Homo sapiens: one gene and its partners. The protein of the gene in region 4 purifies or fractionates together with the protein of the main gene of each other region. This does not show direct contact. Each region holds a gene or a part of one and is shown on either strand. Other genes may lie near its edges.

The links.
Region 1: the proteins of SLC10A5 (region 4) and TMEM59 purify together in Homo sapiens (affinity purification with mass spectrometry; one large-scale study listed by BioGRID and IntAct). This does not show direct contact.
Region 2: the proteins of SLC10A5 (region 4) and WRNIP1 purify together in Homo sapiens (affinity purification with mass spectrometry; one large-scale study listed by BioGRID and IntAct). This does not show direct contact.
Region 3: the proteins of SLC10A5 (region 4) and MAN1A1 purify together in Homo sapiens (affinity purification with mass spectrometry; one large-scale study listed by BioGRID and IntAct). This does not show direct contact.
Region 5: the proteins of SLC10A5 (region 4) and PCSK1N purify together in Homo sapiens (affinity purification with mass spectrometry; one large-scale study listed by BioGRID and IntAct). This does not show direct contact.
Region 6: the proteins of SLC10A5 (region 4) and CDH2 purify together in Homo sapiens (affinity purification with mass spectrometry; one large-scale study listed by BioGRID and IntAct). This does not show direct contact.
Region 7: the proteins of SLC10A5 (region 4) and LRP12 purify together in Homo sapiens (affinity purification with mass spectrometry; one large-scale study listed by BioGRID and IntAct). This does not show direct contact.

Annotation. Positions count from the first base shown.
Region 1 is NC_000001.11:54,026,181-54,029,204, forward strand, and holds the end of TMEM59 (transmembrane protein 59 isoform 2 precursor), read right to left. Parts: 3' UTR 501-3,024; downstream 1-500.
Region 2 is NC_000006.12:2,771,893-2,775,392, reverse strand, and holds part of WRNIP1 (ATPase WRNIP1), read right to left. Parts: intron 2,456-3,500; coding exon of another isoform or gene 2,395-2,455; exon of another isoform or gene 2,342-2,394; intron 1-2,341. UniProt on the Homo sapiens protein: Functions as a modulator of initiation or reinitiation events during DNA polymerase delta-mediated DNA synthesis. In the presence of ATP, stimulation of DNA polymerase delta-mediated DNA synthesis is decreased.
Region 3 is NC_000006.12:119,199,762-119,203,261, reverse strand, and holds part of MAN1A1 (mannosyl-oligosaccharide 1,2-alpha-mannosidase IA), read left to right. Parts: intron 1-1,914; coding exon 1,915-2,008; intron 2,009-3,500. UniProt on the Homo sapiens protein: Involved in the maturation of Asn-linked oligosaccharides. Progressively trim alpha-1,2-linked mannose residues from Man(9)GlcNAc(2) to produce Man(5)GlcNAc(2).
Region 4 is NC_000008.11:81,693,131-81,696,477, forward strand, and holds SLC10A5 (sodium/bile acid cotransporter 5 precursor), read right to left. Parts: upstream 1,929-3,347; 5' UTR 1,843-1,928; coding exon 526-1,842; 3' UTR 501-525; downstream 1-500.
Region 5 is NC_000023.11:48,832,811-48,836,854, reverse strand, and holds the start of PCSK1N (proSAAS preproprotein), read left to right. Parts: upstream 1-1,244; 5' UTR 1,245-1,322; coding exon 1,323-1,436; intron 1,437-4,044. UniProt on the Homo sapiens protein: May function in the control of the neuroendocrine secretory pathway. Proposed be a specific endogenous inhibitor of PCSK1.
Region 6 is NC_000018.10:27,988,631-27,992,130, forward strand, and holds part of CDH2 (cadherin-2 isoform 1 preproprotein), read right to left. Parts: intron 1,721-3,500; coding exon 1,467-1,720; intron 37-1,466; coding exon 1-36. UniProt on the Homo sapiens protein: Calcium-dependent cell adhesion protein; preferentially mediates homotypic cell-cell adhesion by dimerization with a CDH2 chain from another cell. Cadherins may thus contribute to the sorting of heterogeneous cell types.
Region 7 is NC_000008.11:104,579,259-104,582,758, forward strand, and holds part of LRP12 (low-density lipoprotein receptor-related protein 12 isoform a precursor), read right to left. Parts: intron 1-3,500. UniProt on the Homo sapiens protein: Probable receptor, which may be involved in the internalization of lipophilic molecules and/or signal transduction. May act as a tumor suppressor.

The DNA of each region.
Region 1 (3,024 bases), on a different chromosome or scaffold from region 4:
CACCGCGCCCGGCCCATTGCCTACTTTTTAATGGGGTTGTTTTTTCTTGTAAATTTAGTTCCTTATAGATGCTAGATATTAGACCTTTGTCAGATGCATAGTTTGCAAATATTTTGATCAGTGATGTTGAGCTTTTATTCATATGCTTGTTGGAAGCATGTATATATTCTTTTGAGAAGTGTCTGTTCATGCCCATTGCCCACTTTTTAATGGGGTTGTTTTTTTCTTGTAAATTTGTTTAAGTTCCTTATAGATGCTAGATATTAGACCTTTGTCAGATGCATAGTTTGCAAATATTTTCTCCCATTCTGAAGGTTGTCTTCCAGGGTTTTTGTAGTTTTGGGTTTTATATTTAAGTCTTTAATCCACTAGATGGATGTTATAAGAATCCATTTAAGGTGATAGGTGAGAGTGCTACAAAGGGCTTTGCAAATGTCATGGGGAATCAACAAACCCACCCCATTGTGAATTACCTAAGTAGACACTTTTACAAGATAGCATTATTTTTTAATGCAGATGATCCAAGTTTTATTAAAGTTTACATACTTAAGCATAAATAAATTAACAGATTTGTAGCACCAATAATGGTGGCATGATGGTACACCTGGAGGTAACATTATCAAGAGCTTTTGTTGAAACCTTTCATTTTCAATCAGGTGCTGATTTTTTTCCACCCAAGTCTTCAATTATTACTGTTCTAACACTGCAAAAACCATTCAAGCATAAAAAAGCATGCAAGAGGCAGTAAAATAAGCCCAAATAATTGAGAATTGAACAAGAAAACAAAATAATTTACTCTTAAAATGACAAAAGTAAAATTAAGACAACCTCTAAACCAGGGGTCTGGTGAACTTGGATGGGAAAAATTTTAAATCTTTCTTTTCACCAACTTCTAACTGAAATATAACATTTCCTTCAATTACGAATATAGGAAACAGTCCACAGTAGGATCAGAGTACCTGTGACTTTGTCACCAATAGAAATGAGACATTTAGATATATTACAGTTGTTAGATATTTCAAGATATGAATTTGAATTATAGTAATTTTAGAACCACCATGCAGTCTTATTTTGTGTTAACAGAATATGTATGTTACTGGATCATAAAACTTTGAAAATATCAACTTTATTTTAACATGATCAGTTTCCTTTGCGATCCTTTATATTTAGTTTTATGCTTTGAAAACATTACTATGAGAGGGGGTCCACAGGCTTCACTGGATCACTAAAAAGCTCAATGGCACAAAAAAGTTTGAAACAAATAAGTCATTAATATCACAGGAAGAGAGTACTTAATAGTGAAATAGGGTGGGTGCAGTGGCTCATGCCTGCAATCCAAACACTTTGGGAGGCTGAGGCGGGCAGATTACCTGAGGCCAGGAGTTCGAGACCAGCCTGGGCAACATGGCAAAACCCCATCTTTACTAGAAATACAAAAATTAGCCAAGCATGGTGGCACGCGCCTGTAGTACCAGCTACTTGGGAGGCTGAGGCACGAGAATCGCTTGAACCTGGGAGCTGTGGAGGTTGCAGTGAGTCAAGATTGTACCAGTGCACTCCAGCCTGAGTAACAGTGTGAGACTCTGTCTCAAAAAAAAAAAAAGTGAAATATATGAAGCTGACTTCAACAGTAACAGATTTCAGAAAAGGTCTAAAAACTGTGCTCCAGAATTTAATTACCACAAGGAGTTAGAAAATCCACACTACCATCCAGCTTCCTAAACAGAAGACTAAATTTCCCGCTATCCCTGTCTTTACCACTGTACTCACCCCCACCCTAGACTCTAGTGTAGAACAAGTAGTCAAGGAAAGAGAGATTAAAATGGTCACTCATGCAGATGATACCCAAATGCAAACATGACACGCTTAGCAACTGGAAACCTGGTGGGAGGGGCGCAAGAGCACGCTGGCTTCCTAGAGACTGGTTGGCAAACGTAGAATTAAGAGGATGGTGATAAGAAACCAGGGATCCATGGGGCAGCCTTCCCAGTTTGCTCAAACATTCTGTTGCCAGGCTGTGACCAGGACTCAGAGACCAGTCCTAGGTTTACCATCCAGACAACAATGTGGGGGAGCAGAGAGAGCGTTATAGAGAAAAGTTTAAAAATATAAGTAAAATGAAATAGTATTCTTGGGTATTAAAAAAAGAACTCTGAGGCTAAGATTATTGTTGGCCTCTGGACTTGCCCTTTCTGGTCTATCTTCCACATTGCTGTCCGAGTGAATCATTCCAACACTGTATGGCACTCTCTTGCTTAAAATCTTTCAGTGGCTCTCTACTGTGCTCAGGATCAAGTGCAGGTTTAAAGTGCAGGTTTATTACCTGGTCTGCCTAGCCCCATCTTTTGTTATGCTTTTGTATGCTCTATCTCGGCCTACTCAACAATCTGCAGTGCCTCACCCTCTGGCCTCTAGGTCTTTGAGCACAGTGTCCCCACTGTCTGGTACACTGCTCTCTATATTGTGTTTGGCGTTCCCTTTTTCTCCAGGTTTAAGCTTGGCTATCACTTTCTCCCAGAAGTCCTCCTGTGTGCTCCCATAATGCATACAGCTCCTCCTATGTGCTCTGTGCTTGGTCATAGCACTTATCACATTAATAATAGTCTCCTTCAGAGTCTCAGCAATTGGGGTCAGGCACTGGGTCTTACTGTGGTCCTAGCATTTAGCATAGGGCCTGCCACTCAGGATCTCAGGTGGTTGTTGAATGGTTAAATTGTGGATCTATAAAGGCAGAACTGAGCAAAATTACTGCCTTGGTGTGGTGGTGACAGTAACTGGAAATCTCTGTCAATGATTCCCTACATGTGGACTTGATATTTGAGTCCACAAAAATTATAATGGAACTACTGTATATCTTTAAAAAACTTGTAACAAAAATGGCTCATTTATCTAAGACAAATCCAGACAGACTAATAACAAAGGGTAAATTGTTTGCCTTTGGCTGGAAGATAAGCTCAGACAGTGCAGGGTTTTCTGCTGATCAGCAGCTCAGATTGCCTCATGATGCACCACAGGGATTTCTGA
Region 2 (3,500 bases), on a different chromosome or scaffold from region 4:
GACACAAATACAGCCACATGTACCTTACCTACCATAGACTGAGCTCAAATCTCCAGGGGCAGACCCTGGGCAAGGCATGTTTCTAAAATGTATCCCAGGGAAGTGTGATGTGCAGATCTGGTTAAAAGGCTCTCCTGCTGCTCTTACACAAAGAAGTGCCAAGAGAGAAAAGTCAGAACAGAAAAACCGAGCAGTGGGTCCATCCTCTGTAAACTTGGCACCTCCACCCCTTGTAGCACTTGAAGTCACTGAGAAGACAGAGACATGCCTTAAACACTGGCTCCATCACATTGAAGCTGGTTGGTCTTGGGCATGTTACTTAACCTTTTTGTGCCTCAGTTTCCTCATCTAGTAAATAGGAGGTAATGAGATCTACTTTGCAGAGCTGTATTGAGGACTGAATGAGATTAAGACATGTGGAATGCTTAGAGCAGTGCCTGCCATGTCATGAGACTCGACAAATACTGCTTTGGTATCAACAGCGAGGAGAATCACCCTCATCAGACTGTGCAACAGCATACTCTCCAGAACTGCACATATCCAAGGCAGAGCCCCAGATGCTGCCGCTTCCATAACATCAGAGTGAAAGCAAAGCAAAACAAAACTGACTTTCTCCACAAAGAGAGAAGGTACATTTCAGATGACGACGTCTTTCTGTTTAATCCCATGGAGGCACATGTCTTTCCAAATTACATTATACTTGGTAGGGGTCTGTAGTGGGTTGAATAGTGACCCCAAAAGATGTAAGTCCTAATCCCTGGAACCTGTGACTGTGACTTTATTTGGAAATAGGGTCTTTGTAGATGTAACTAAGGGTCTCAAGATGAAATCATCCTGGATTTAGAGTGTACCTTAAATCCAATGACAAATGTCCTTACAAAACACAGAAAAAGAGAAGACGTAAGGACACAGAGAAGAAGGCCACCATGTGAAGATGGATGTAGAGACTGGAGTGACATAGTCATAAGCCAAGGAATGCCAAGGGCCATCAGATGCTGGATGAGAGCATCGCCTTGTTGATACCTTGATTCTGGTCTTCTGGCTTTCAGAACTGTGAGGATAAAGCTCTGTGTTCTGAGCCACCCAGTTTGTGGCAATTGTTACAGCAGCCACAGGAAGTGCATCCAAGGACCATGAGATCTGTGGTTCTGGCTGCTGGTGCTTTTATGGCATTATTTTAATGCACCCTTGTATTAAAACAGCTATGTTAATGTACTGTATTAATGTACTTAAAAAATTTTTAAATAAAAAGATTGACATCTACTCTATACCAACCATTTATTCTGGCCAATCCCTTGTATTCTGGAGTTCCACTACCTTTCTTTCTATTCAATGGCACAAAAGGTTATTTAAGACACTTTAAACTTTTATAAAAAGAAGAATCCATAGCCACCTTGTTTGGGGGCCAGCTTGTCAGGGGCTCTCCTCTCCAGATGATTAGAGAAAAGCCCCACACCCAGTTACGCCACAGCCCTTACCCAGGGACAGACGCCACTTTCTGTCTTCCAACCACCTCTCGGAACTCAGCCTAGCTAGGCAGAGGGCAGTTATGGCTTCTCATTTCACTCTCTTGATCTCCAAAGACTTGTATACTCTATCTGGTTCACAAATAATTGATTCTTTAGGAGTGTTTTTGACTATGTATATATTCTATGACCTAGGAATCTATATTCCTTCAAAGCAGCAAGTAGTGCAGGATGACGAAATGCTAGCTTACTTTTTCATTTTCAGCAGCACAAGCTCATTCTTCGTATCATGAATCATGGACATTTTTTTCCTGGCCTCCAAAATTAACCCAGAGCAGACAGAATCTTCACTGTTTGTATCATGTGATCCAAATATTTTTGGGAGAGCAAAATACCTGAACACTACTGCTTAGCCATACAAACCAAAGCAACTATGGCGTAGACAATGAGCTTTCTATTTCACTCAGTTAAATTCTGCTTATCCTTCAAAACTCAACTCCGCATCCCCTCATCTAGGAGGTGAAATACTGGATTTCACATATTCTGAATGCTGCTTCTCTACGCCCACTGCACTTGGCGTATAAGCGTGGCACTGGAAGTGGACCTGCTCCCCTAGCCTTCATCATACTGCGCTCCCTCTGAAGGCACAGGAACAAGCTTTTCAACCCTCAGCCAATGCCTAGCATATGCAGGAGCTTCAATTTTGACTGAATAATAACTACAGGAGGGAATTTTTTTTTAAAAAAAGAACACTTATTTCACTTTAATGGGAATTTATCACTTACATGAGTATACTGTGTGACAACTCACAATTCCTCAAGTGCAATCAAGAACGGCTAAGCGGCAGCTTGATTAGTTTCCAAATCCAGTGCCCTGCTCACCTCCTCTCACGTGCAGTTCAACAGCCTGGGACTTCTCTGTAAATGTTCTAGTTGCTATCTAGGGCACCAAAACATGACACAAGAATACAAATGCACACCAATAGCTTCCTGGAGAGAGAAAGTAAGTATATGGGGTTGGAAGTCTTTTCTTTCAACTAGATTAGTGTCACCAAATCTGATTTATATGCACAAGGATGTATATAGAGCTGTCAACAGGGATTGGAAAGCAAAATTTTACCTAAAACAACTAAAAGACATCCCAATCCACTCTTAATTATCCCTGACAGTTGGGGTGGCAGGTACTTGTATTCGGAAATCACTTGTAAGAGTTCTTTCTGTGGCCTATGATATCTCCTAACTTAACTTCTTGTTAGAATTGCTAACAAGTTGACCAATTAATGGTTTTAAGCTTAACATTCTTTCATTTTACTCTGCTTGCTGCTGATGAAAAGGGCAATAGTATTAAAGAAAAAGGCTCTTGATACCTGGGTAATTATCCCTTATGCTGGATAATGCAAAACATATTAAACTACTTTTCTCATATCGAAAGCTAGGATTTATTCATTTCCAAACCATTCACAAAGCACATAATGTGTGCCAGGCACTGTGCTGGGGATATGAACAGGGACAAGCTCCTGTCCTCACAGTCTTCCCAGGAAAGCGGGGGACACAAGATAGCAAATATAATTGGGATCAAGTCTAAGCAAGCGGTAGTGGAAATAGTAAATCATTTACTGGATATGGGAAGTTTTCTCTGAAAAGCAATTTTAGCAGATAAACAATCTCTAGCTCATTGTTATATCAGTTTCAATAACTAAATCTTAATTATTTCACTTGATCTTCTCAAACTTTAATGTGCCTGCAAATCACCTGAGGATTTTTAATAATAAAATATAGAAATTCTTCTCACAAGGATGAGCTCCTTGGCTGCCGCCTTTCTCATTTCCTTTAAATTCCTGCACGGCAGTGACTGGGGAGAGGTGAAAAAACCTGAGGGTATCTGAGTAACAACTGATTATTATTGACTTCATGTCATCAATATTAATTATTGATTTCATGTTCTATTTCATGAACTGATGACATGAAATCAATAAAAATCACCCCAGACAAGTACACATGCAGAATATTAAGTTGCAGATACATTACGATAACC
Region 3 (3,500 bases), on a different chromosome or scaffold from region 4:
CCACTCTGACTAACATGGGATAGCCTCTCCACATCACCCTGTCCCGTTAACTCTCAATCAGCTCGGGTTACCATAACAAAAATGCAGCCAGAAACAACCGAAATTTATTTCTTACAGTTCTGGAGGCTGGGAAATCCAAGATCAAACTGCCCATGAGGTAGGTTTTATTCTGAGCCTCTTCCCTGGGCTTGTAGATGACGAGAACTGTCCCAGTGTGTGTTCACATGATGTCTTCTTTGTGCTCTGAGGGAGAGAAGGAGTCACAGAGAGAGAGAGAGAGCTCTTGTGTCTCTCATGAGGGCACTAATCCCATTTAAGGCTCTACCGTCATAACCTAATTACCATCTCCAAATAAATCTCCAAATACAATCACACTGGGAAGTAGGGTTTCAGCATATGAAATTAGGGGTATGCAGTTCAATCCATAGCACCCTTTTATTTTTTTCCACAGTATTTATCATCTCCTGACATACTATACAGTTAGGTGTTACTTAACAGTGTTTATTCAACAGTGGACCACATATGTGACAGTGGTCCTGTAAGTTTATAATGGAGTTGACAAAATTCCTACGGCCTTGTGACATCATAGTTGTCATAATGTCGTAGTGCAATGCGTTACTTACATGTTTGTGGTGGTGATGGCATAAACATACTCTACTCCCAGTCACATAAAAGTATAGCACATATAATTATGTACAGTACATAATATTTGATAATTAAATGACTGCATTACTGATTTATGTACTACTATGGTTTTTATTGTTATTTTAGAATGTACCACTTTTTTTTTAAGTTAGCTCTAGAAGCAAGGTCCTTCAAGAGGTATTCCTCTTCAAGGCATTATCATCACAGGAGTTGACAGCTCCATGCGTGCTACTGCCCCTGAAAGACCTTCCAGTGCGATAAGATGTAGAAGTGGAAGACAGTGATATTGATGGTCCTGTGGAGTCCTAAGCTAATGTGTATATGTGTCTTAGTTTTTAACAAAAAGTTTAAAAAGTTAAACAACTTTAAAAAGAAATTTTAAATAGAAAAAACTTATAAGAATATAAAGAAAGAAAATATTTTGGTACAACTATACAAAGTGTGTTTTAAGCTAATGGTTATTACAAAAGAGTCAAAATTTTTTTAATTAAAAAGTTTATAAAGTAAAATTACAGTAAACTAACGTTAATTTATTATTGAAAGAAAAATACTTTTATAAATGTATTAATAATGGCTAAGTGTACCATGTTTATAAAGTTTACAGTACTATACAGTAACGTCCCAGGCCTTCACATTCACTTATTACTCACTTACTAACTCATCCACTGCAACTTCCAGTCCTGCGAGTTTCATTCATGATAAATGCCCTATACAAAGTGCCCTGTATTTATGTATAGGGTTATAAAATGTATAACCCTATAGAAAGGTATCATTTTTCATCTTTTATAGTGTATTTTTCTGTGTTTAGATACACAAATACTTCAGTACAGTAACATATGCTACACAGGTTTGTAACCTAGAAACAGTAGGCTGTGCCAACTACATTTGTGACAGTGTGCTCTATGATGTTTGTACAAGAATTAAATTGCCTGTGTTTCCCAGCATGTATCCCTGTCATTAAGGGACACATGACTAGACTTATTGATTTATTGTCTGTCCCGTCCCACTAGGATGCACAATTCTAAGAGTGTGGTGACTTTGTTTATCCACTGGCCCCTTGTTCCTAGTATGGCATCTGGCTAATGGTAGATAACTAATCAGTGTGACTATATTCACTTACTGCCATTATGTTTGTAATAATAAGCTAACAGCAGTTATCTTTGTTCTAACTCTGCATCATTTAAGTCAACTTGTATGTTCAAGAAGAAGAAGAATGGCATGAAAATTGTTTTTTAGATTTTCACGGTAACATTTTATTTTCTATTATAGGTAATGAATATTCGAACAGTACTGAACAAACTGGAAAAACCACAAGGCCTTTATCCTAACTATCTGAATCCCAGTAGTGGACAGTGGGGTCAACGTAAGTCAGAAGATTTGCATTATTATAGCTCTTTTTGGTACTGTACTCGTGGAGAGAGAGGAAGCACAAAAGCAGCACAGATTTTGTTGAGAAATGTTTAGAAAAGGAGAAAAGGGCATGGCTCCTTTAATAAACAGGCTTCTGTCATCAGATTGTGTTATTAGGACACTGGATTGTGTATTTTTCATATATAACTCCAAGTGTGATGACATATAAGCACATTTACAGCTATTAATCAGAAAGGGAAGATCTGGCCAGAGTAGTGTGGGGATGTTAATCTGTAACAAGCTGGTCATGTGGATAGAAAGGAAATTCATTCCTTTGTACTAATGACTATGAGGGTTTTATAGAGAGTAGGTAGACCATTCTGCTTCCTAACATTCTGTTTCTGCATGGCTATATAATGAGAGAGGAGCCTGAATTTTTAAGAGTTGGGAAATTGGAAGAGCAAACAGCCTGTTTTTCTCTTCTTAATTTTAAGCTGCCAGATATAAAGGTTTCTTGCCAGTAGAATTACCTTTAGGATGGGAGAAAGTATTGCACAAGAACTTTTGATCCTAGAAGCCTGCACTTAAGACTCTTCAGACGATTTTGAGCAGGGGCATAAAGATTCAGAGTAGTTGAAAGAAATGTTCTCAAGCTGATTTGGAAAAACAGTAGTAGATTAAATAGCTGAAAACAAGTGAAGAATATTGAGATACCCAACTGTAGCAAGAGTACACTGCCTTAAGATTTTACTCTAATTTGGGTTTTTTCTTTATATTTTAATATCATGTTCTTAGATACCTCATTATTACTTTAGAAGTACTTTTCTTAAAGAATAGTTTAATAGGAAAGTATATGCCAAAATCCATATGCTAAAATATGTCTGTAGCTCTGGAAGGCCTAGCTGTTGAAACCTTAGGACTATAATCAAGGTTACCACTTACCTAAGTGTGGTCAACAGATCACTGGAAGTCCTTGAGACCTCTGAGGAGGCCCACAAGGTCAAAAATATTTTTATTATAATACTAGTATAATGATATATAATAACAAGACATATAATACATGTCTTAGTCATATTTACTAAGCCAGTACACAGTATCTTGCACTTAGTGGATGTTTACTTACTTAAATTTTGTGAATACATATGTGCTCTGTATCTCATCTCTCTTTCTGCCTCTGCTTTTAATAGTGGTACTTTGAAAGACTTTCTGCCTTTTCTAATGTGTTGATATTTACACCTACAGTGTTAGGTGATACTGCTGAAGCCTCACTGAGAACAAAGGCGAACAAACACCAAATAGTACTAATATTCATATTTTTTCTTTTTTTTTTCTTTTTTGTGGGACAGGGTCCCACTGTGTCACCCAGGCTGGAGTACAGTGTCATAATCTCAGCTCATTGCAACCTCTGCCTCCTGGGCTCAAGCTGGGCTCAAGCTATCTTCCCACCTCGGCCCCCCGCCCCGAGTAGCTGGGACTACAGGTGCACGATGCCATGCTCAGCCAAT
Region 4 (3,347 bases):
GGTGGGTTAACATGGAAGACAGGAGAAAGCTTAGCTCTGAGGGCAGAGATGCCACATTTACTTTAAAACATACTTATTTTGATGTGCTAATGAAATTTACAAATTCATTCACCGAGTGAGAATTTGTCAAATGTCTGCTATCTGGGTGTTCCTTCTTTTAATACTTAGGATATATCATAATCACTAAATAAGTTTTCTATTGCTCTGTCTCATTTAGGAGACCACTGAAAGTATCATATTGACATCATAGCCTATAAAACATTCTCAAACCAACACAGTTGCAAAGTTGTCTCCTTCCTCTGAACTTCTGTATTATCATCTCCACCACTCATTGAGTACTTAGCATATACGAATGTGTGTGTGTGTGTGTGTGTGTGTGTGTATATATATATATGTATTCTCTACCCCCCAATGTCAGATTTTTAATTACATTATAAGTGGCTTAAGAGCAGGTATCATTATAGTTATTCTTTTACTCTCCCACAGTGCCCTACCCAGAGTAGGAATTCAGTAATGCTTTAATTGTTAGATTAGGAAATTTCTTTTCCTTTTATCTTGTAAGAAAAAGATACATCTTTTCTTAGCCTTGTAAACTAGAATGATCAGTAACATTTCACATCCAGAACACATGGCTACTGTAAAAGGAGCCACAGAAGCTAAATTGGCCTTGGACTGTGGAAAAGACAGCTGAATAACGGCAAGAGCTAAGAAACTATTTAACATCCCACTTTCAATAGCAACAGTTTTACAAACAGGAAGAGGCAGCGTACAAACTTTAGCAAAGGAGTACCCAAACAGCAAACCCAAAGCAGGAACTAAGAGACCCAACAGAATCACCTCTAGATTATCTGTTTTTAAGAACACTAATCCCACTGTGAAAGTCAAATAAATTCCTACGAACATTAAAATAAAACTCAGAGGTCTAATTATTCTCTCTAAGAAGCTTGCTTTTTCAGGTATTCTATGCTTGATGACTATTCCAATTGATACTGGCACAAGTATGAAAAGGAGTGTTGACACAATTTTAGAAACAGGAATATGGAATGTACCTGACAACCCTAATATCCTACTGTATATATAAGAATTGACAGGCATCATGATCAGAGCCAATAATGTTGATGTGCAAGTCATCAAAATGGCCAATGTGAAATCTCCATCTAGAAGCAGAGCAAAGAGATAGCCCCCACCCCCTCCTGGGCACGTGCAGGTCATTACAACTCCAAAAGCTTGCGCCTCAGGCAATGCCACAATCTGAGACAAAAGAAACCCGCAAAATGGCATCAGAAAAAACTGTGTAACTGCCCCAAGAATTACTGGCAAAGGTCTCTTCCATACTGTTTGAAACAGCTGTAATTCAATCTTACAACCAAATGCACACTTATTCAATAGTATTAGTGGTAAAATAAGCATTAGGATATTTCTATCAATATGCATTGGTGCCTGGAGTAGACTGTCTTTTTGTTTGAGCACTTTGACTTTCACATTCTTGATTTCTTCAATGAGTCTTTCTTGCCTACCTTCAGAATCCCAGAGTTGAATAGTCACATTTGTTTCTCCTTCTTCATCAGTCACCAGATTTATGGTAAAGTTTGTAGCATCTGATGAGATCTTCTTGGCCACATTCACCATTTGTAGTATTTTAGGATCTTCTATTTTCACAAAGAGGTGGCTGGAATTAGGCCGTTTATTTTCGTAGCTTGAACTTACAAGGATGGTTTCTTCAGTCTTTGTGAAAAATAGTATTTCAGTCTTCTCTATATTCAGAAAACTGAGCGATGACATCCTTGCTTCTTCTATAGTCACAAGCAACAAAAGTAGAACAATAAAAAGTTTTCTAATCATTTTGAAAGCTGAAATAAATCATATATGCAAAATCGTTTTTAAAAAATGAAAGAACATTCTTCATGCAGGTGTTCCAGTGACAGTCTGAGGGTGAGTTAGATAACAGTTGTTTTTGTAGGATCAAAGTCCAGTAGGAGGGACTGCTGTACTTTTAAACAAATATATAGCCATCTAAGCAGCAACACAACCGGTTTAACTTGTGATTAAGACAATTAAAAAGTCATGGCATTTAACAGATTCGATTTATCACAACAGAAATCTAATCTCTTCCTCTTGATTTCCTCATTTCTGCTTATGCGAAAAAAAAAAGCCTCCTATTTACTTGAATTTAAAGCTTAGTGTCATCATTCGTTAGTTATTTCTTGCTAAAAAAAAAAAAATTAAAAGCAGTCAGGATCAAGAAATCTGTAACAGACACTGAGGAAACCTAGAGTTCAGTGTTACCATTTTGTTCAATCAAGTCGAAGTCAAATCAATATTCACTGAATGTCTCTTTGCCTAGGGCATGGAATTGGGAGCTGGCCATCCCATAATGATTAAGCCAGATGCAGTCGCTGCTCTCCTGGAGCTTAGTGGGGTGACCCAATATCACAAGTTAGAAAACTGCAGAGCCCAGACACTGGCCTTGGCAGCATCCCTTGGCTGCTAATAGTTTTCCTGCATCTCTGAAGGATGATTTAATCTGTCAAGCAAAAACTGACACTGTTTTTTGTATACCTAAGTAGGAAAAAAAATTCCTGAATGGTTACCAGATAACTTGGGGACATAGGGAAAGTAGGTAGCTGGTGCCACGGCCAAAGGTACAGGCTGGTTAAGGGACCACAGCTACTGGACACTTGGACCCTGACACGATGGGGCAATGGAAAGACACTGGCATTGATTCTAATCTTTTATTCCTTGTTTGTAACACTACTCTCTGTTCACAGTTAGGGGCAAGGGCATTCAATTGACCCAATTTGGTCATATCCCTTGGTTGCCAGGAATGAGAAAAAGCATCAGGCTTTTTGGATTTCAACCCATAGACTCACACACTTGTATATTTCCCACACAAGGGGTGGGTGTCCTGATGCTAAGCAGCAAACCAACCAGCCGACCAACCAACCAACCAAACGTTTACTATTAAGCCTACAGATGTAGTAGTCTCTGAACACATGACCATTTCAGCAGCTCTTTCATGTAATCATGATGCAATGTGTTCAAGGTAATGCCAATTTGTATTAAGTATTTTAGATCATTTGTTCCTCAAAAATGTGAAACCTTTTTGTCATTTTAACGAGTTTTATAAAAGTATACCATTTATGTCGGTTAATCTTTCAAATGCAGTAGACCTTAGGTCTCATAAATTTTATTAATATGTACCACATTAAGAAAAACAAGATCCGCTGTACCAATGGTGAGGATAGGGAATGGGACTGTTCATTGATATTTCAGTTAAAATTTCCCTATTTTAACTGACAAAAACAAAACAAAAAACAAAAATGTCATAAAACCTAAGTTATCTTTAG
Region 5 (4,044 bases), on a different chromosome or scaffold from region 4:
AAAGTATAAAGGAGAAAGTAACAAACCATTAGTTACCTCCCCAGAGATAACCATTGATGACATTTCCTCCCCAACATTTTTCCCCCTATGGATACACATACATTTTTTCAAGATCTTGTTTCCTTTGATATGTCATTTTAGTGGCTTGAACTTATTTCTGGAACAATATATGGGTAAAGTCTATGCATATATGTATCTATGTATATATCTATCTATGGAAAACAAGTAGATATAGACAGTAAAATAAAGACAGAGACAAGACAGCGGTTGGAGAGATGAAAGGAGAGAAAGTCATAGACAAGGAGAGACATATGGGGAGAGGAAGACACAGAGAGAGCTGTGGGCACATAAGGGCAGAAAGATAAACACAGAGAGCCATGGAGAGATGAAAGTATTGGGCTGGGGCCAGGCATGGTGGCTCAACGCCTGTAATCCCAGCACTTTGGGAGGCCGAGGAGGGCCGATTGCTTGAGCTCAGAAGTTGGAGACCAACCTGGCAACATGACGAAACCCCATCTCTACAAAAATACAAAAATTAGCCAGGCGTGGTGGTGGGCACCTGTAGTCCCAGCTACTTGGCAGGCTGAGGCATGAGAATTGGTTGAACCCTGGAGGTGGAGATTGCAGTGAGCTGAGATCCGGCCACTGTCCTCCAGCCTGGAGGACACAGCGAGACACTGTCAGAAAAAAAAAAACACAAAGAGACAAGGAGAGGATGGAAAGGAGCATTTATGGAGCTCCTACTGAATGTCATTCTAAACCTCCAAGGTCACTTTGAGGGAGGCTGTCAGTAGTAACCCCTTTACGCCGCTGAGAGCCTGAGCCTTAGAATGGCCAACTGAGCTGTCCATGGTCACATCACCTAGATTGAACCCATCTCCCTGGCGCGGGCCGGGCCCACTGCGGGTGATCCATTAACTATTTATCTAATGAACAAACTAAAGTCCATCTCCTCCCCCAGGAAGAGAGATGAGGACCAGACCCCCATTCCACTCCACTGAGTCAATTTTTCTTGCCTGTTTTCCTGTCTACTAAGGTAACAGTAAGGTCGGTTGCCCCAGCAACTGCCCTCCGACTGCCATGGCAACCGCCAGCTCTCCACCTTGCCCTTTGGGCATCTCCATGGCGACGGGAGGTCTGGTGGGGCTGCCAGCTCCCCAGGCTGCGCCTGCGTCGGTCGGGTGGGTGGGGTGGGGGCGGGGGGGGGGGGGCCTGGTTCCGGGCGTGCGCAGCCGCAGAGCGCCGCAGCCTCGCCAGCTCGCCCCGGCACTGCGCACTTGCCAGCCAGTCCGCCCGTCCGGAGCCCGGCTCGCTGGGGCAGCATGGCGGGGTCGCCGCTGCTCTGGGGGCCGCGGGCCGGGGGCGTCGGCCTTTTGGTGCTGCTGCTGCTCGGCCTGTTTCGGCCGCCCCCCGCGCTCTGCGCGCGGCCGGTAAAGGTGCGACCCCAGTCCGGCGAGGGGTGGGGGTTGGGGGAGGATGCCACCGGCGAGGGTTGGGGTTGGGGCTGCGCCGCCTCACCCCCGCCCGAGCCGGCTCCCGGGACGTGCGGAGAGATCGACGAGGGTGGCCCGGGCTCCGGCCGCCGGTCCGCGCCCAGGCCACGCCGGCACACCTGAGACCTGACTTGGTCTCTGCCTGTGCGGGTGGCGTTGTCCGGGGCGCCGCCGGTAACCGTGCCCTGCCCACCTCTCCGTGCCCGGTGCCTGTGACGCTGTCCACGGCACTAAGGCGCTTTAAGAAAGGGCGCGCGCGCATCAGTGTGTGTGCGTGTGATGTGAGGAGAGCGGTGTGGAGGTGTCGTGTCCTTGAAAGTGTGTGTTCTTTGGTTTGAGCGCTTCCAAGTGTCCTAGAAAGGTGCCGTGGTGCGTCTGGGTGTGTAGTGTGTGTGATACCGGGATACTTCTGTGCGCGATTCTTTTGTGCGTCCGATTGTTTTCTCAGTGACACCGTGTGGATATTTGTGAATCCTTATTATGTGTGTTGGCTTGGCCTATGGGCGTGTCTCTCTCTCTCTCTCTCTGTCTCTCTCTCTCTGTGTGTGTGTGTGTGTGTGTGTGTGTGTGTGTGTGTGTGTGATTTCGTTTGTGTTTGAGAGGGAATGGTCTTCGCATCTCCGTGTGCACATTCCATAGTGGTTCTGTTGGACCAAGTGCCTGGGATTTCGTTTGCGTGTTCCTGAGACTGTTTCTCTCCGTTTCTTTGTGGAGCTGTGTCATCCTGAGGAGAGGAGCCATGATGTCTCTCTGCTGCATTGTGTCTTTAAGGATGGTGCATGTCCTTGCACCTGGGTGGCTTGGCGATTGTAACTGCAGGAGCAGCTGCGGATGTGAACGTGTGCAGGTCCTTGCATGTGGCTGTGGCAGTGTTGGGCTGTATATGTGACATCTCCAGGCCTGTCAGTCCTCATGAGTGTGTGTGAGGCTGTGATTGCTGGTGAGTGTGATACCCCGGGGTGACTGAGGAGTGGTGGGCGCCAGCAAGGGCACTTGGAGAGGCATCCTCCTCTAGCTCTTCAATACTGTCTGCATCAAAGATGGGAATTAAAAAAAACTGTTACCTTATATCCGTGTAACAATGTGTTTAATATATATGTACAATGTAAAGAATGATGACAAAATAACTCTCTCGTGTAGCAGTCACTCAGCTTAATAAATAGAGCCTGACCAAGAGTTAGAAGCCCCTGCGTGCCCCTCGCCATGGCAGCCCCTGTCCCCACACAGTCCTTATTCTGTATTTTCTGTCCATTGATCCCTTACTTTTGTTTGTAGCTTATCACATATGTGTAGCTCTCAAAAAAAATCCATTGTTTAGTTTTTCCTGCTTTTGAACATCATTGAAACGGAATCATACTGGGTGACTGGTTCCTCGTAGTCACTAGGGGTCACTAGGAAGTCCTCAGGGTGTCTAGTAGTCTCAGGCAGTCTGCAGTGAAATTCTGGAACTTGACGTTTTTTTTTCCCTTGGCTCTATTCTGGTCACGAGATTCATCCAAGTTGATGCATGTGGCTGTAATTCATTTATTTTTATTGCTGCATAATATTACATCCTATGAGGACATCATGATTTATATATGTATTCTCAATTTGTCAGTGGACATTGGACTGTTTCCAGGCTTTTCTTTCTCCCCCGCCCTTTTATGCTATTACGAACAGTGCTGCTGTCATCTTTCACGAACTTGTGACCAGTAGCGTATGTGCCAAAGCTGCTCTGGGGAGTGACATCCCAGGAGTGGGTCATAGGATATGTGCATCTTTTTAGATATTGTCAAACCGCTCTGCAAAATTACTTTGCCAGTTTAATTCTCACCAGCATAGTATGAGAGTTCCCATTTTTCTGCATTCATATCAACACTTCATATTATCAGACTTTTTGATTTGGGTCAATCTTTTGGTTATATTATGCATAGTATCTCCCTGGCATTTTAATTTGCTTTCCCCTGATTACTAATGAGGTTTTTAATTTTATTTTATGTTTGTTAGAGACAGGGTCTTCCTCTGTCATGCACGCTGGAGTGCAGTGGTGCGATCTGGGCTCACTGCAACCTTGAGCTTCTGGACTCAGGTGATCCTCCCACCTCATCTTCCCAAGTAGCTGGGACTATGGGCTTGTGCCCCGCTCATTTTTTTTGGTTTTATTTTTTGTAGAGACAGGGTCTCGCCATTTTGACCAGGCTGGTCTCAAACTCCTGGCCTCAAGCGATCTTCCTGCCTTGGCCTCCCAAAGTGCTGGGATTACAGGCATGAACCACTACACGTGGCCCAATTTTTCATATGTTTAGTAATCATTTTTGTGAAATAGGCGATCATGTATTTTTTCTATTTCTGTATGAGTTTGTTTTTCTCTTACTACTTTTTAGGAATTCTCTGTATCTTCTGTGTACTACTCTTTCATTGACTATTTGTGTTGCAGGCATCACTCCTTTTAAACATATTTATATGTGGCCTGTATGTTTCTTTTCCAAACCTTCACAGTCATTTTTATGATCTTTTATTCCTTGCTCAGATTATTGGTACCCTCTTTTATTTCTTTAAACTTGTGGAAATT
Region 6 (3,500 bases), on a different chromosome or scaffold from region 4:
TTTAGCCAATTGGCAGGATCAGATAATTTAGTGTATCTACAAAATGAAAGTGAAGTTTAATTTCTTTTTATGAAACTTTAAAAAAACATATTTTACAGGTTTAGTTCCAAATGCAACTGGCTCATTAACTTGCATTTCTGTAGATGATGGCTGGACATACAGCTTTAACAGGAAAAAGTATTTTTGTGACAGTGGTATTGGGAGGCACATAAAGGTTGTGTTTGGTCAGGCATGTAGGAAACATTCTACAGGTGTCTGAGGGACAAGACTAGGTGCACAGTCTCCCTAATGTGGGCTAAAGCAGATTGGAAAGTTATCATTTTAGGTTCTTGTCCACTTCAACAGATATCAATGGTTCAGGTAAAATAGCTTGAATATAGTTTCTAGATAAGCAGTAGTCTCAATGTACAGGAGTTAAGAGAAATTATAATAGAAATTGAATACTGCATCACAGAACACTCCTAAAACATTTTAACACTTTATCATGGCCAACATGAAGCCACACTGGAGAGACCACCATAATCCCATTCCTACTTGAATCTTTCACACTGGGCCAAGCCTCAGATCTATACCTTTGCAAAGAAAGTCCTACAGTCTTGAGTCTGAATTGGCAGATTTATCAGCTTAAATTCCTTTTTAAAATTTGGAGTGGGGATTAACTTTTAAAGATTAGATAACCAGTTGGATTGGAAAAGGTATGCTATGTTTGGAAAGGTACAAGTTGTAGGATTTCAATACATCTATTAACTGGCTATTTATTAATAGTTATCTTGATTTCAGTGAATAGAGAAATGGAGAACATTTAACATTTAATAAAAGATAACAATAGAAAGTTATCTTTTAGCAGCAGTTCTGTAAGAAGTTTAATGAAATATAAGTTCATTTTAAAAATGATCATCACCAGCTTTGGAGAACAGTCGCATGGGGTGTGCTCTGGCAACCATCCACTCCCTCATCAGAAAGGATAAATTACATTTTGCTGAGTTTGGAAATCTTTACAGATAGGTTTCATAAGTCCAATAACTACTGTACAGGTAAGGAATGAAAATAATTAACTCTTAGATCCTGGTTTTGGCATAAGCTTTCTTTCCTTCATGATGCATGGAGGAGAGATAAATGTTATAAGCCTCTGAAAGTTCCCTGCGGAACCTTTTTGTGATGTTTGGCATAAAGGCACAGGCTAAATAATTTTAAAGTATTTTTTAAGTAAAAATGGCAGATACAGAGAAACAAGAACAGCTTTTTCTTCAAATAGTAAATCCATTTTAATATGGATACAGATATCTATTTATATCTAATATAGTCATTGACTTACTGAGAAGAAAATTCAAAGAATTTTAAATTATCTTTTAATAAGTAGTTTTGATTGCAATGAAAATTTCTACTCAAATAGTGAATTAGATAAATTTTATGCACAGCATAGAACATAAGTAAGCTACAAAAACACTACAAACAGCATTTCATACCTAATATTTTGCTGCATATATCGATCTGGGTCCTGAGCAGTGAATGTTGTCAACATGGTACCGGCATGAAGCCCTTCTTCTTGGCGAATGATCTTAGGATTGGGGGCAAAATAAGGGTTTTCATTTACGTCAATAACTGTAACAGACACGGTTGCAGTTGACTGAGGGGGGTGCTGAATTCCCTTGGCTAATGGCACTTGATTTTCTGCAGCAACAGTAAGGACAAACATCCTATTTGTTTCAAAGTCGATTGGCTGGAAAATAAAAGGGAAGCCATATTTTTGCAGGAAATAAGAATGCTTGCATTCTGTAGTTTATTCCTCTATCAACTCCATTTCCAAAAAATTAATTTCTTCATTCACTACATAACAAGGTTCCTCTCAAGTTTCTGGAAAACATGCATTAGCATGGTCACTTATCAAAATATTTATCCCAATTTAACCTAATTATAAATCTTGAGTACTTAAAAGATTTATGTTCACAAAACAGTGCACATGATTACTGCACAGATTTATTTATTTAGGTACATCTAAAAACTTGATTATTCTTAAGAATAGCATTGTTGACTAAAAATACTAAATAATATAAAGTCAAGTGAGAACATGATGGTCTAAATGTATACTCTCAAACATTAGTACAAAGATCACTCCTCACCCAGGAAAGCTTTCACCAGTCTATGATGAATTGAAGAAAACAAACCAAAAATCAGAAAATGTAATTTTTAAATACAGCTAAACTTATTTGATTTAAAAGTACCTTTCATAATTTGAAGTACACATTTTGCAGTACAAACATGTATACATAATCGCACACACACCTTTTAAAAATAATACTGTTGGTAGGTGGAAGATATTTTTCTTTTCCTCTTAGCAAACTAAAACTCTGCTGTCTTCTGGAATATTTCTGGATATTTTATTGGTCTGTAAAACCCCCAAATTTAAGAAAAACACTCTAGATAAATGCAATGCACAAATAACCCTTCATGTAAATACTAACTTCCAAAGTTCACTGAATCTTGCTGTCACTAGAAATATTACCAGGAGTCAAATGACTAGACTGGACATTCACTCTTAATTTTCCTTGTTCACCTGCGAATGGATGTGCAAATAAGCATTACTGTGCAGTAATAACAGGAAAAACAAGAGCATTAAGATCTCTTAGGCTCATAATTGGTAGCCTAAGAATGATCGAGAGGTGACGCTCATAAGAAAGCTTCATTATCAGCAGAAACTGCACCAGTTTCGTACCCTAGACCACCTTTTAAAAATCTTCAAACACATCTTTTTTTCTCTCTAAATCCCCAATTCAACATTCCTTTCTCTAGTATTTTAAGCAAGACAGAAAAAAAGCCAGAAAGTTAAGACTGCAATATTTAGAGTGATTTCACTAGCCACACGAAACCTTCCCCTGATGTAACATTTATGCTAAGGGGTATATGCACAGTTCAAAGTCCTTTAATGTGTATGAAGCTCATTTATCTCTCAGAACACTATGACTAACATACTGTTATCAGCCCCTTTCTGCATAAGAAACCTAGAATTTACAGTGGTTAAATAGTTGGCCATGATCACACAGATATCAGGAGCAGAGCTGGGACTCTAACACAGACAGCAGACTCAAGTTGGTGCTTTTGATCACTATGTTCCTTCTGAGAGTTTCCATTCCCATTCTATTCTACTCCCGCATCTGCATAATTATTGGCAACTGGCACTTTAGCACATCTTTCTATGTAAGGTCAATATTTAGGTTCACTTACAAATCAAGAGTGCTTAAGTGGGAGGCAAAGAAGTAAATCTCTTTACTGGGTGGCTAAAAGGAAGGGATGTTCACTTTAACAGGCTTTTCCATTATAGCTACGCATTTATTATTCTTGAAGAACATCCCCTTGGCTTCTAGCATGCAACTGTTTTGTTTGGTTCCTTTTTGACCATAAGATCAGAAGAATACATTTCTTAACGTCTCGGAAATAGCATTTAAAAACAGCCATGCAAATGCAAGAGCTTTCTAAAATGCAGGCTTTCTTCTTGCCTACTC
Region 7 (3,500 bases), about 23 Mb from region 4:
TATCACTAACATTCCTATACACCAACAACAGTCAAGCTGAAGCCAAATCAGGAATGTAATTCCATTCACAACTGCCATAAAAAGAATAAAATACCCAGGAACACAGCTAACCAGGGAGGTGAAAGATCTCTAGAAGGAGAACTATAAAACTACGCTTACAGAAATCAGAAATGACACAAACAAATGAAAAAACATTCTATGTTTATGGGTAAGAAGAATCAATACTGTTAAAATGGCCATACTGCCCAAACCAATTTACAGATTCAATGCTATTCCTATTAAATGACCATTGACATTCTTCACAGAACTAGAAGAAACTATTTTAAAATTCATATAGAACCAAAAAAGAGCCCAAATAGCAGAGGTAATCCTAAGCAAACAGAAGAAAGCTGAAGAAATCATGCTACCCAACTTCAAACTACACTACAGGTCTACAGTAACCAAAACTGCATGGTACTCGTACAAAAACAGACACATAGACCAATGGAACACAATAGAGAACCCAGAAATAAGGCAGCACATCTACAACTAACTGATCTTCAACAAACTTGACAAAAATGAGCCATAGGAAAAGGATTCCTTATTCAATAAATGGTGCTGGGGTAACCGGCTAGTCATATGCAGAGGACTGAAACTGGACCCCTCCTTACACCATATACAAAAATTAACTCAAGACGGATTGAAGACTTAAATATAAAACCCAAAACTATAAAAACCCTGGAAGACAAGCTAGGCAATACCATTCTAGACACAAAAATAGGCAAAGATCTCAGGATAAAGATGCCAAAAGCAATTGCAACAAATGCAAAAATTGACAAATGGAATCTAATTAAACTGACGAGCTTCTGTCCAGCAAAGGAAACGGTCAACAGAGTGAATAGGCTACCTACAGAATGGGAGAAAATTTTTGCAAACTACGCATCTGACAAAGATTCATAATTTGCAAAATATCCAGCATCTATTAAGAACTAATCTAGGCTGGGTGCGGTGGCTCACGCCTGTAATCCCAGCACTTTGGGAGGCCCAGGCAGGTGGATCACGAGGTCAGGAGATTGAGACCATCAGGACTAACACAGTGAAACCCTGTCTCTACTAAAAATAAAAAAAAAAAAAAAAAAAAAATTAGCCGGGCATGGTGGTGGGTGCTTGTAGTCCCAGCTACTCGGGAGGCTGAGGCAGGAGAATGGCATGAACCCGCGAGGCGGGGCTTGCAGAGAGCCAAGATTGTGCCACTGCACTCCAGCCTGGGCGACAGAGCAAGACTCCGTTTCAAAAAAAAAACAAAACAAACAAACAAAAAATTAATCTAAATCTATAAAGAACTTAAAACACATTTACAAGAAAAAAACCCATTGAAAACTGGGTAAAGGACATGAACACTTTTCAAAAAAAGACATACATACAGCCAACAATCATATGAAATATAGCTCAACATCACCAATCAGAGAAATGCAAATCAAAACCACAATGAGATACCATCTCACACCAGTCAGAATGGCTAATTATTAAAAGGTCAAAAAAATAACAAATGCTTGCGAGGTTGTGGTGAAAAAGGAATGCTTGTACACTGTTGGGAGAAGTGTAATTAGTTCAATCATTGTGGAAGACAACGTGGCGACTCCTCAAAGACCTAAAAACAGAAATATCATTGACCCAGCAATCCCATTACTGGGAATACACCCAAAGGAATATAAATTGTTCTATTATAAAGACACATGCATGTGTTATGTTCCTTGTAGCACTGATTCACAATAACAAAGACATGGAATTAACCTAAATGCCCATCAATGACAGACTGGATAAAGAAAACGTGGTACACATATACCATAGAATACTATGTAGTCATAAAAAAGAACAAGAACATGTCCTTTACAGGAACTTGGATGGAGGTGGGGGCCATTATCCTTAGCAAACAAATGCAGGAACAGAAAACCAAATGCTGCATGTTCTCACTTATAAGTGGGAGCTAAATGATGAGAACACATGGACACATAGAGGAAGGGGAACAACACATACTGGGGCCTGTCAGAAGGTGGCGGGTGGGACAAAGGAGAGGATCAGAAAAAATAACTACTGGGTACTATATACGATATGATGTACAGATATCACTAGATATGATGTAACATATCACTAGGTGATGAAATAATCTGTACAACAAACAGATTAATAATTATGTACAACAAACCCCCATGTAATAATTGTGTACAACAAACCCCCATGACACAAGTTTACTTATATAACAAACCTGCACATGTACTCCTGAACTTAAAAGTGAAAAAAAAAAAACTAGCCAGATCATGAAAGCTCTGCTGAGTTTAATTTATATTTTAAGAACAGGGAACTGCTGTTGGGTTTTAAGCAAGAAAGTTACATTATCAGATCTGTACTTTAGATAAGTCACTCTGGCTACTGCTAAGTGTGATATGATTCAATCAGGACAAGACTAGAGCTAAGACTAGTTGGTGGCTGTTACAATAATGTAGACAAAAAAAAAATAATGGGCCTCTACACGAAGAGCACAGCAGTAGACAGACATGAACCTTAGGCAAAACTACTATTCTCAAAGCTTCAGTTTCTTCTAATAATACCTACCTCACACAATGATTTTGAGAATTAATCATGGCATTTTTTGTATAGGTGTTCTGTATTCTCTTAGCAAAACTTTCACAAGCAATAATAATTTCACGAAACAATTCTACTTCAAAATATATCAGATACAAAGATTATTCTTATGTTTTCTCCAATATATGTAAAAAGATGCCTTAACTATTAATGAAATTAAGTCAGATTATGAAAGGTTTACTCACTTATATTTGAAAAAGTAAATTCCAACTACTAAACATCCTATTGTGCTCCATTTAATCCTAATATTAAAAGATTGGCATCATTTTTAATTTCTCTAAAAACTGAAATGTAAGTGAATTAAAGGTAGGTATCAAGTTAGTCTCACTCAATGACAAAACATGAGCATAAAACAATTTCACATCTTCACCAAACTGATACCAGCAAGTAAATGAGTTATTAACTATTTAAGAGGAAAACTAGAAAACTCTTTTGTCAGTTTTATTTACTTTGAAGTTTTGGGACCTACTAAAGTTATATCTTCTGTAAAGCTACACAATAAAAAAAAAAGATAAAAGCTCAATTTTTCCAAATCTGCTCTGAAATTCACCAATCTTTTAATACATTCTTGCCTCTACCAAAGACAATCTGATTTCTAAAGCAATCTTTATTGATAGCTTAGCAGAAAGCATTTAACTTTGGCAAAAAGGTATTGGAAATCCAGCTTTTGCTCCACCCTTTGCTTCTTGCCTGAAATACACTTAAAACATTGTAAAAAGTTATGTTCTATACTTATTTCATTGACAAAATGACTGCCCTCAGAACTGAGTTCTCCACAGAACCCTTCTTAAGGTTCCTCCCCTTGTAATTTAAGTCCATCTCTTCCTGTCATCTGCTGTACAACTATTCATAATATATGTGCTTGTATAGTGTTCATA